Homo sapiens: one gene and its partner. The protein of the gene in region 2 purifies or fractionates together with the protein of the main gene of each other region. This does not show direct contact. Each region holds a gene or a part of one and is shown on either strand. Other genes may lie near its edges.

What was found. The genes of interacting proteins can lie anywhere in the genome.
Region 1: the proteins of ABCB7 (region 2) and MTCH1 fractionate together in Homo sapiens (co-fractionation; one large-scale study listed by BioGRID). This does not show direct contact.

The regions. Positions count from the first base shown.
Region 1 is NC_000006.12:36,979,287-36,984,161, reverse strand, and holds part of MTCH1 (mitochondrial carrier homolog 1), read left to right. Parts: intron 1-2,489; coding exon 2,490-2,574; intron 2,575-4,875.
Region 2 is NC_000023.11:75,051,762-75,056,108, forward strand, and holds part of ABCB7 (iron-sulfur clusters transporter ABCB7, mitochondrial), read right to left. Parts: intron 1,825-4,347; coding exon 1,609-1,824; 3' UTR 1-1,608. UniProt on the Homo sapiens protein: Exports glutathione-coordinated iron-sulfur clusters such as [2Fe-2S]-(GS)4 cluster from the mitochondria to the cytosol in an ATP-dependent manner allowing the assembly of the cytosolic iron-sulfur (Fe/S) cluster-containing proteins and participates in iron homeostasis.

The DNA of each region.
Region 1 (4,875 bases), on a different chromosome or scaffold from region 2:
AGGGCTAGGATTTTAGGGCACAGGTGGGAGAGTCTGTGGAGTGAAGGATACTGGAGCACAAGGGCTCAGTGTGAGGGAAATGAAGAAGTGGCTTCATCATTTGGATGATGGCAGATCTGGTTTGAAAGAACATTGAAATGAGGGTGGTTTGGGAAGGGAATGGGGGAATGAAGGACACCAAAGCGTGAGAAGAACTAGATGGTGGGCAGGTAAGGATGGATGAGCCCTGTTGAAGGACCAGAGGTGCCTGTCTGATTTGAACCCAGCTGGTGTTGAGTGTAACATATATTAGGGTAAGATCTTCAATGGGTATAGTTTGGGAATCAGAGTAATAACTTGCAGAAAGGCAAATTACTGGGAGTGGGGGTGTCAGGAGTGGAGTGACAGATTTGGGGATTGTCTAGATTAGGTGCGTAAGAATGCAGTGCCTTAGATTAGTGCATGTGGCTGTCAGGTTTGGGAGTCGGAGATTTTAAGATGACAGACTGTCCCTGCTGGTATCTGATATAGGGCCACAGCATTTGCCGTAGTTAGGACTGGGTTAACAGATTTGAGGTTGAAATTGGGTTTAATGACTTGGGAACAAATAATTAAAACTTGAAGGCAGGAGGAATGGGGGTGAGATACAGCCAGTGTGCCTATGATAACCCAATAGAAGTTAAGAAAATAGATTCAACAGATTTGGGAGCCATGGGGATATGGGATAACGTTACAAATTTAAGTATGAAATTGGGGTCAGTGGGACTCCCAAATAGTGTTGACTAAACTGGATAAGGACAGCAAAAGAGCAGTTGTGGCGATTTGGAGTGGAGGAATAAAGGAATACCACCTGTATTTAAGAGAACACAGATCAAGACAAAACTTAATTCAGAACAACCTTGGAGCTTTTAACCCAGAAGGGAAAAGGTCTAGAAGGGAAGTACTCACTGCCTGGGTCAGCTGACTCACCCCTTTCCTCCTTTGCTCCACTGGGTCAAAATTTTTTTCTTTTAAAGACAGTCCCCATCATAGAGGAGTTTTTAAATTTACAATCATTAATCTGTTAGGCATCTCAGAATCAGATCCATAGGAGATAGCCTGAACTTTGAAAAGCACTTGCTTGATAAAGGCAAAAGGGGACAGGGTTGATCCCAAAAAGCACTGGAAGCATACCTAATCCAGTTTACAAGGTAGCGCTTTCTAACTTGCCACTTCTACTGCCTCCCACAGCTGCAGGCCAAATCCTCTCCCACATGTCAGAGGAATCGCTCTGGTCCATGGGCCCAGCTGGCCTGCTTAGAGGGCACAGGGCTGGTATCCTGGCCCCTTGCCAAGGGAGGAAGGAGCCTTCTCACTCCCCACCTAGGTGCTGGTCTCCTTGACACCTTGCCTCCTCCCTGGCAGCAGGGGCTCTCACCCCTCGACAGAGACTTCCTGCTCCTCACATGGATATGGATGGTCCTTCACCCACCCGCGGGTTTAATAAATATTTCAGGCTGGGCGCAGTGGCTCATGCCTGTAATCCCAGCACTTTGGGAGGCCGAGGCGGGTGGATCACCTGAGGTCGGGAGTTCGAGACCAGCCTGACCAACATGGAGAAACCCCGTCTCTACTAAAAATACAAAAAATTTGCCGGGTATGGTGGCGGGTGCTTGTATTCCCAGCTACTTGGGAGGCTGGGGTAGGAGAATCACTTGAACCCGGGAGGTGGAGGAGGTGGAGGTTGCGGTGAGCTGAGAGCACGCCATTGCACTCCATCCTGGGCAACAAGAGTGAAACTCCATCTCAAAAAAAAAAATAAATAAATAAATATTTCAGATATAAGAAGCATCTGTACAGCAAGAACTATCATAGCCCTACAGAAATGAGGGGGTCGTTTTGTCACAGGGATGTAGGGTGATTGAGGTGAGAACGCAGCTAAGGATATGTTTGAGGAGTAGCTGGAATTTGAGGTAACAGTTTGCTAAGCCTGGGAATGGGAGGAATAGACATGGAGGTGTCTGCAGTAGATTTGGTAAGAAATTTGAGTTTGGGGTGCACTTTGGAATAGATGACTTAATGGCTGACCTGTCTGAGGTTTGGGTATGATGTATTTTCTTATTGCCACATTTGGAATTGAGGTTGGAATGAAGTTTTTCATCTGGAGATGAGAATAACTGAGATTTGTTCTGAGATGGGAGTAGGGTTTGCAGTACATACAAATGGAGGTTTCTCTACTGGGAATATTTGGGATTTGAATGTAAGAATGTTGGGGTGTGGGTGTGACTTGGATTGTGGTTGGACAGTGTCTGGGACCAGGCATTTCTGTTGATTGGGAGTTTACGTGCTGCCAATGGTTAGAGACACTGACGAGCTTTCTGGTATGCTTTGATGGGGAAAACATGAACAAGAGCCACATTAGAATTTGTGGGAGAAGAGTTAAGCAAAGGGGGCAAGAGGTGTGAGGAGAGGTGGTGAGGCTGAATCACCACGAGACTCTGAGCGTCCCTTTGTCTTTGTTAATTCTGAAGGTGGGTCATGAGCCGATGCCCCCCACCCTTGGGACCAATGTGCTGGGGAGGAAGGTCCTCTATCTGCCGAGCTTCTTCACCTACGGTGAGTGTGCCTCCCAAGCAGGAAAGCCCACACCAACAGAAAAGAGGCCTCAGGTGGGGAGCAGGACCAGCTGGCCCCGGGGAACTCACTGCGCAGCATGGCACGCAGTCGAGCTGGCATGGAGGAGGGGATCTAAGCGTGTACAGAGAGGACATGGTGTCGGGGTGCGAGCAGGTGAACCATACAGCTTTGGTCCAGCTCCTCTGCCTGTAGCTGCCAGCTGCCAGCCCAGACAGCAGGAGGGGACAGACACAGGTGCCTGAGAGAGGAGCCAATCTAGGACACTGGTCCCTATTATTTCTGCTGCCCCGGGTTGTGCCTGGAACATGCGTGGGGGTGATTTCCTTTTGTCCTGTGAGCAGCCTGGCCCTGCTACTCCAGCAGGAGGCCCGGGGGGTCCTCTTGAGTTTTTTTCTTTTATCCCACCTGGGTGTCTTGTTTCCCCTGCATTCCTCAGGCAGTGAGTGGTGCTCACTCACTCTGGTGTCTCCATCTGTTGGTTACAGAATGGTGTGCAGTGAATTGCAGCTTCACTTCTGTGTGCTGCGTGAGTTTGGGTGGGCCACTTACCTGCTGTGGCCTGGCTGCACCCCTTGTCTGCAAAGTAAGGTCAGCTTCTCCTGCCCAGGCCTTCCTGCAAGCTCCCCAACTGTCATCAAGAAGCCCACCTTGCTGCCTCTGCTGCCCATCACCTGGCCCACAGGTGCCGTCTGGCCAGGGCCTTTTCATGTTCACCCTCACTGTCCCTCTCCCAGTCCCTACCCTCACCAGATGACCATGATGAAGGCCTTCTTTAAATGTGCCCTTTTTCTCCGTGTTCACAGCTGGAGTTCCATTGCAGGCAAATCCCCTCCAGTTTCCTGCACCTCTGCTCTTACCTGTTTGGTTGTCTAGAATATTCTCCAGAATCTATCTTTCTGTTGAGTAACTTGGGGCTTGGCCTCTGTCTTACCTTTTCCATTTCACATGCTGTTGGCAGAATTGGGTGTCATATTTCTCTTCCAGTTTTGTCCCTGTGTTGTTGAGTGCAGAGTCTAGGGCCAGGTGGAATGTGTCATCTTGTGAGGAAATGTGTTTGTGTTGTTTTTTACTTAAAAATTGTCAGCGTAGTGGAGAGGGGAATGACAGAAGTAGGAAGGCACCCCACCATTGTGTAGTGAGGCAGTATACAGAGAGGTAAGGCAGCCGGGGCAGATGGCTGCGGCCCTGCACGGGGCTTTTTCTGGATCTGGTTGCACGTGCTGTGTTCTGAGAGGCGAGGTTAGAGCCCAGATCATCTCTATTCATGTGACACAGCCATTCCCAAAAGGACTTAGAGCAGAGGGAACTTGACCCCCATCTTAACTGTCTCTTTTGAGGATGAGCAGAGTTCTCAGGTGTGCCCCCAGCCTGGTTTATATAAATGTAGCTTTAATCTAGGTGTGAGCAGATGTCTGTTGGGGATCTCTGGACACCAGGCCTACTCTGGAGTCAGAGAGGGGACCCGCCATTTGGCTCTCTGGTACAGTGTGGACAGTGTCTGCTCCTCTACTTGTCATGGCTGAAAGTACTGCAGCTGTCATGACATTCTCTGGTGTAGAAGAAAGAACTTCCCAGAGGGTTTCCTGGCACTGCAGAAAGACCCAGAATGAGGGAGGCCCTGGGACCCACAGAGGCCCCTGCAGGCATTTCAGCACGCCTCCCTCCGCTCTCACTTGTTCCTCAGTTCTCTCAGAAATGGAGAGAAATGACGGTCCTTATTCCTTCTTTTTTTACAGGTGGGCAGATGGAAGAGGGTCGATGTTTTGCTCAGGATCACAAACAGAGGTCCTGAGGCTCCCTCTCCTCACTAGGATCCACCCTCCCCCAAAGCAAATTTTCCTTTTGCCTGTTCACTCTGTGAAGAGGGCTCCTTGCCAAGTCACCCAGCATCCCCTCCCCTCCTCCTCCTCTCCTTCCAGCCCACCCTCATCTCAGGCAATCACATATACAGGTAACAGGTGTTCTCAGCCTCATGAAAAACCCATGCTAGCTGTGACATTGAATTGCTGGGCTGGCAGACATCTGCGGAGGAGCAAAAGGCATATTTGCTTCTTCCTGCCTCTGCGCGGTGCCAGAGAGCTAAAGTCATGGTCTAACAGGGGGAGCATGCTGTCTGAGAGAATGTTCTGCTAGCTTCCAGATGCACAGGTTTATAAAAATACCACCCTGCCATTTAAAACATGTTTAAAATGTTGATAGAAAACAATGAATCGTATCCTTAGAAAGACAGACCCTAGTGAAAGAAACACTAACTCACACAGGTAGGGTCTAGCTTCCATA
Region 2 (4,347 bases):
TATGTAATACTCTATTTACCTAAATGTTAATATTTTTTAAATGGACACTGATTTATACACGTGTGAGCATGTGCATACATGCACGACATCCCATTTACTTGTTTCTTTGTAAACTTCGAATAGAAAAAGCAGCACATTTAAGATGGAAATATAAAAGGAAATGAACTTTCTAAGCTTTTCAGATTACTCCCAGTATAGCAACTTTCAAATTACATAGGAGTTTGTAAATCTTTAAAGAAAAATGTGTAGTTTTGTCCAAAACAAAAACAGTGCCTCATATTTTTATGGAAAAATAAAATTCTAATCACTAGATGATAGTTATGGTGCTGCTTAATGATGAAGAATATTCTACATAGCGACATGAGAATGAAGGTTTTTTTCCTTCAAAAAGTACATAGTTGCAAATACTTCAAAAATTCTAGCGGCCGGGTGCGGTGGCTCAAGCCTGTAATCCCAGCACTTTGGGAGGCCGAGGCGGGCAGATCACGAGGTCAGGAGATTGAGACCATCCTGGCTAACACGGTGAAGCCCCATCTCTACTAAAAATACAAAAAAATTAGCCAGGCATGGTGGCGGGCGCCTGTAGTCCCACCTACTCAGGAGGCTGAGGCAGGAGAATGGCGTGAACCCAGGAGGCGGAGCTTGCAGTGAGCCGAGATCGCGCCACTGCACTCCAGCCTGGGAGAAAGAGCGAGACTCCGTCTCAAAAAAAAAAAAAAAAAAATTCTAAGTATAGGCTGGGCATGATGGCTCACACCTGTAATCCCAGAACTTTGGGAGGCCAAGGTGGGCGGATCATGTGAGGTCAGGAGTTCAAGACCAGCCTGGCCAACATGGCAAAACCCTGTCTCTACTAAAAACAGAAAAATTAGCCAGGTGTGGTGTCATGCGCCTGTAATTCCAGCTACTTGGGAGGCCAAGGCATGATAATTGCTTGAACTCAGAAGACAGAGGTTGCAGAGAGCCGAGATGTGCCACTGAACTCCAGCCTGGGTGACAGAATGAGAATCTGTCTCAAAAAAAAAAAACAACAAAAAACAAAAAACAACAAAACAAAAAAGAAAAAAGTAAGTAACCTATCAAGTAAGACATCAAACTATAAATGCATGTCTATTTCTGATACATTCTAATTTTAAAAGTTTATAAATTCATTTTCACATCAATTTCAATTGGACGAAGGAGGGAGAAGAAACAATGAACCTACACTATCCTCTTTTTCTTTCATGTTAAGAAACAGACACTTTCCCTCTAAATTGTCAGCATAAAGGTTTTAAAAACTATAAAAATTGGGAAACCAATCTGATTCATCTGGCTATAGATCAAATGAATGTCAGGCCTCAAGAGGGTAATGTGGTAATATCAAACAGGTAGCAAAAAGTATGCATTGAGCACAACCAGGACAGTGACAAGAAAATAATTTGGGGATAAATACAGATGCCACATTAAATAGACTATGAAAGATGTAAAACTCAAATCCCCTTTTAAATAAATCTTATCTAAAAGAAGGATTATAGAAAATGGGAATGTATGATTTTTTTAATAAAACAATTCTGCTTCAGTGCAAATATGTAGTCCAAAACAACAAAAAAAGAAAATGTCTTATGTGACTTAGCACGAACAGTTTCCACAGCCTTTCACACTATTGACAATTTCTTCTTGTAGTTTCTTTCTTTCCTCCTCTTTGGATATATTTTCTTTCTTTGCTTCCCATTTGGGGTTATCATGGTTCTGCACACGGCTGCTCTGTGTATGCCACATTTCTGAATAGATACTATGAGGGTTAGCAAGCAAACCATGGTGGGTACCACGTTCGGCTACCTTACCCTAAAAAGTAAACACATGAGAAACACGGAGAAAGGTCATTTAACTAGCATAATAACTGAAAATACCAAATACTTTCTAACTAAGGAGTTTGAAGGATTTGCATTCATTAAAATACTTCTCCCAATTCCTCATACACAGTATAAGTGAAAAAAATTTAGGTAGGAATGCTTTCCTCCCTGTTGAGCTACCCAGTGCCAGAACAAACAAAAGGCTATAAAATTTCTAATACCATAAACACCATTTTATTTAAAGGAAATAAAATTGTAATGTTTCATTTGTCATTTTGAAGGGAAGAAAGGGAAGGTTAAAATGTAAACAGGTGATATTTTCTGTAATCAGCAAATATTCAAATCAAAAGCACTGTTATTTACAGAGACTTAAAAGATTTAAAAATAATATCCTTAAATCCTTATGTGTACTTTGAAATAAAAAAGATTTCATAAAATAAAAAAGATTTAATGAAAATGAAAAGTTTACTTCTTCCAGTGGCTATTTTTGTTAACAATGGTTATTAAACTTAACACTGCAAAGATTTGGTGGTATAGATTCCAAACTCTCATCTACAATTAATTTGTTTCTTGATAGCTACGGTTAACCATGCTGAGAGACAAAAGGACTTCTGTCACTTTTACTGGTATTCCTGGTAACAAGACTTTTACAATAAACCCTTAAGTAAAATAACTGAAATGTCTGTGCCTACATTTAAGTATTTACATGTAAGGTTATACCACTATTCCTTGATTTATTCATTTCTGGCATTATCTACTAACTTCCTACTATGGAATACGGAGATTCAACACTCATACTATCCCACATTCCCACTACTACATCATATACTCTCCTAATAACATCAGTTACATCACAAATTTTGATTCAGTGTTTACCTTATTACGACTTTGTAAGTATTCCCTGCTTAGCTAAGTAGGTACTAGGATTTTATATTTATTTTCTTATATAGTCTTTTAATTCTCCTAGACTTAGTAACTTCCTTGTTTTTTTTTTTCATTTGCTTAGTTTTCTGTGTCACTATTGGAAATCTCTCCAAAGTTTATTACACAATCACAAAACCCTTCTCAACAGTATTTTTCTCATAATCAACTACATTAAGTAATCTATTAGTTTATTTCACCTCACCACCCAGAGATATTCCCTTCAGAGCTTTTAGGTTGTTTTCTACATCCTCAATTCTGAAATTGTATGATAATGTGCCCTGGTACAGCTTTATTTTTCCTTTCCATTCATTGTGGTGGGTACTCAGGCCCTTTCAATCTAGAAACTCTTGCTCTGAAGTTCTAGACACTTTTTTGGTATTACTTTCTACGGCAAAAACCACAATAACTTTTGTACCAACCTACTATTTGACAATTTCCTCCCCTGTTTCTGGCCTCTCTAGAACTACCACTAGTCAGATGTTGGACTTTTTAGATAAATTCTCTTGTTTTCTGATCTTTTCTCTATATTCTCTTTCTTTTGGAGATTTCCTTGACTTTATTTCAGCAAAGACATTTCTCATTTCAAAAATCTTGTTCTCAGGTCATTCCTTTATTTATTTATTCACCAAATCCATTTTAAAATTTTGAAATATTTCAAGAGTGACACAATGAACAACTTTATATGCTTCTCCTAGTTTGGCAACCATTATTTTTTCCTACATTTGCTTTCTCCACCTCACCTTCTCTCTATATATACATGATTTTTTTGCTACACAATCTGAGAATGAGCTGCAGACATCATTACACTTCACCCCTAAATATTTCATTAGCATGTATCTCCTAAAAACAAAGACATTCTCCTACATTACTGAAATACAACTATACCACACTCAGGAAATTTAACAATGGCCGGCCATGGTGGCTCATGCCTGTAATCCCAGTTCTTTGGGAGGCCGAGATGAGAGGATTGCTTGAGCCCAGGAGTTTGAGACTAGCCTGGGCAACATGATGAGACACCCCCCCGCCCATCTCTACCAAAAAAAAAAAAAAAAAAAAAAAAAACAACCAAAAAACACACACAAAAAACTGAACAGTGATACGATATTCTTATTTAACATACAGTCCATATTCAAACTTCATCAATTGTACCAATAATGTCCTTTATACTTTTTTTCCATCTAGGATCCAATCAGGATCAACACATTGAATTTATAACAGCTTCGTTCTAGTCTGTGTGTGTTTGTGACATTGATATTTCTAAAATGTCCAGTCCTGTTTTTAAAAGACTGCCCTTCAATTTGTATTTGTCTAGTTGTTTCTGATTATTAGATTCAGGCTAAATTTTTTTTTTTTGAGATAGACTCTTGCTATGTTGCCCAGGCTGGTCTGGAACTTCTGGGCTCAGGTAATCCTCCCACCTCTGCCTCCCAAAGTGCTGTTATTACCAGCATGAGCCACCATGCCCAGCCCAAGTTAAACATTTTGGGTAGAAAGAAAAGATAATACATCTTCAGTGCATTACATCAGGAGGTACATGAGTTCAATTTGCTCCATTACTGATATTAGGTTTGATCAATTGGTTAAGGTGACA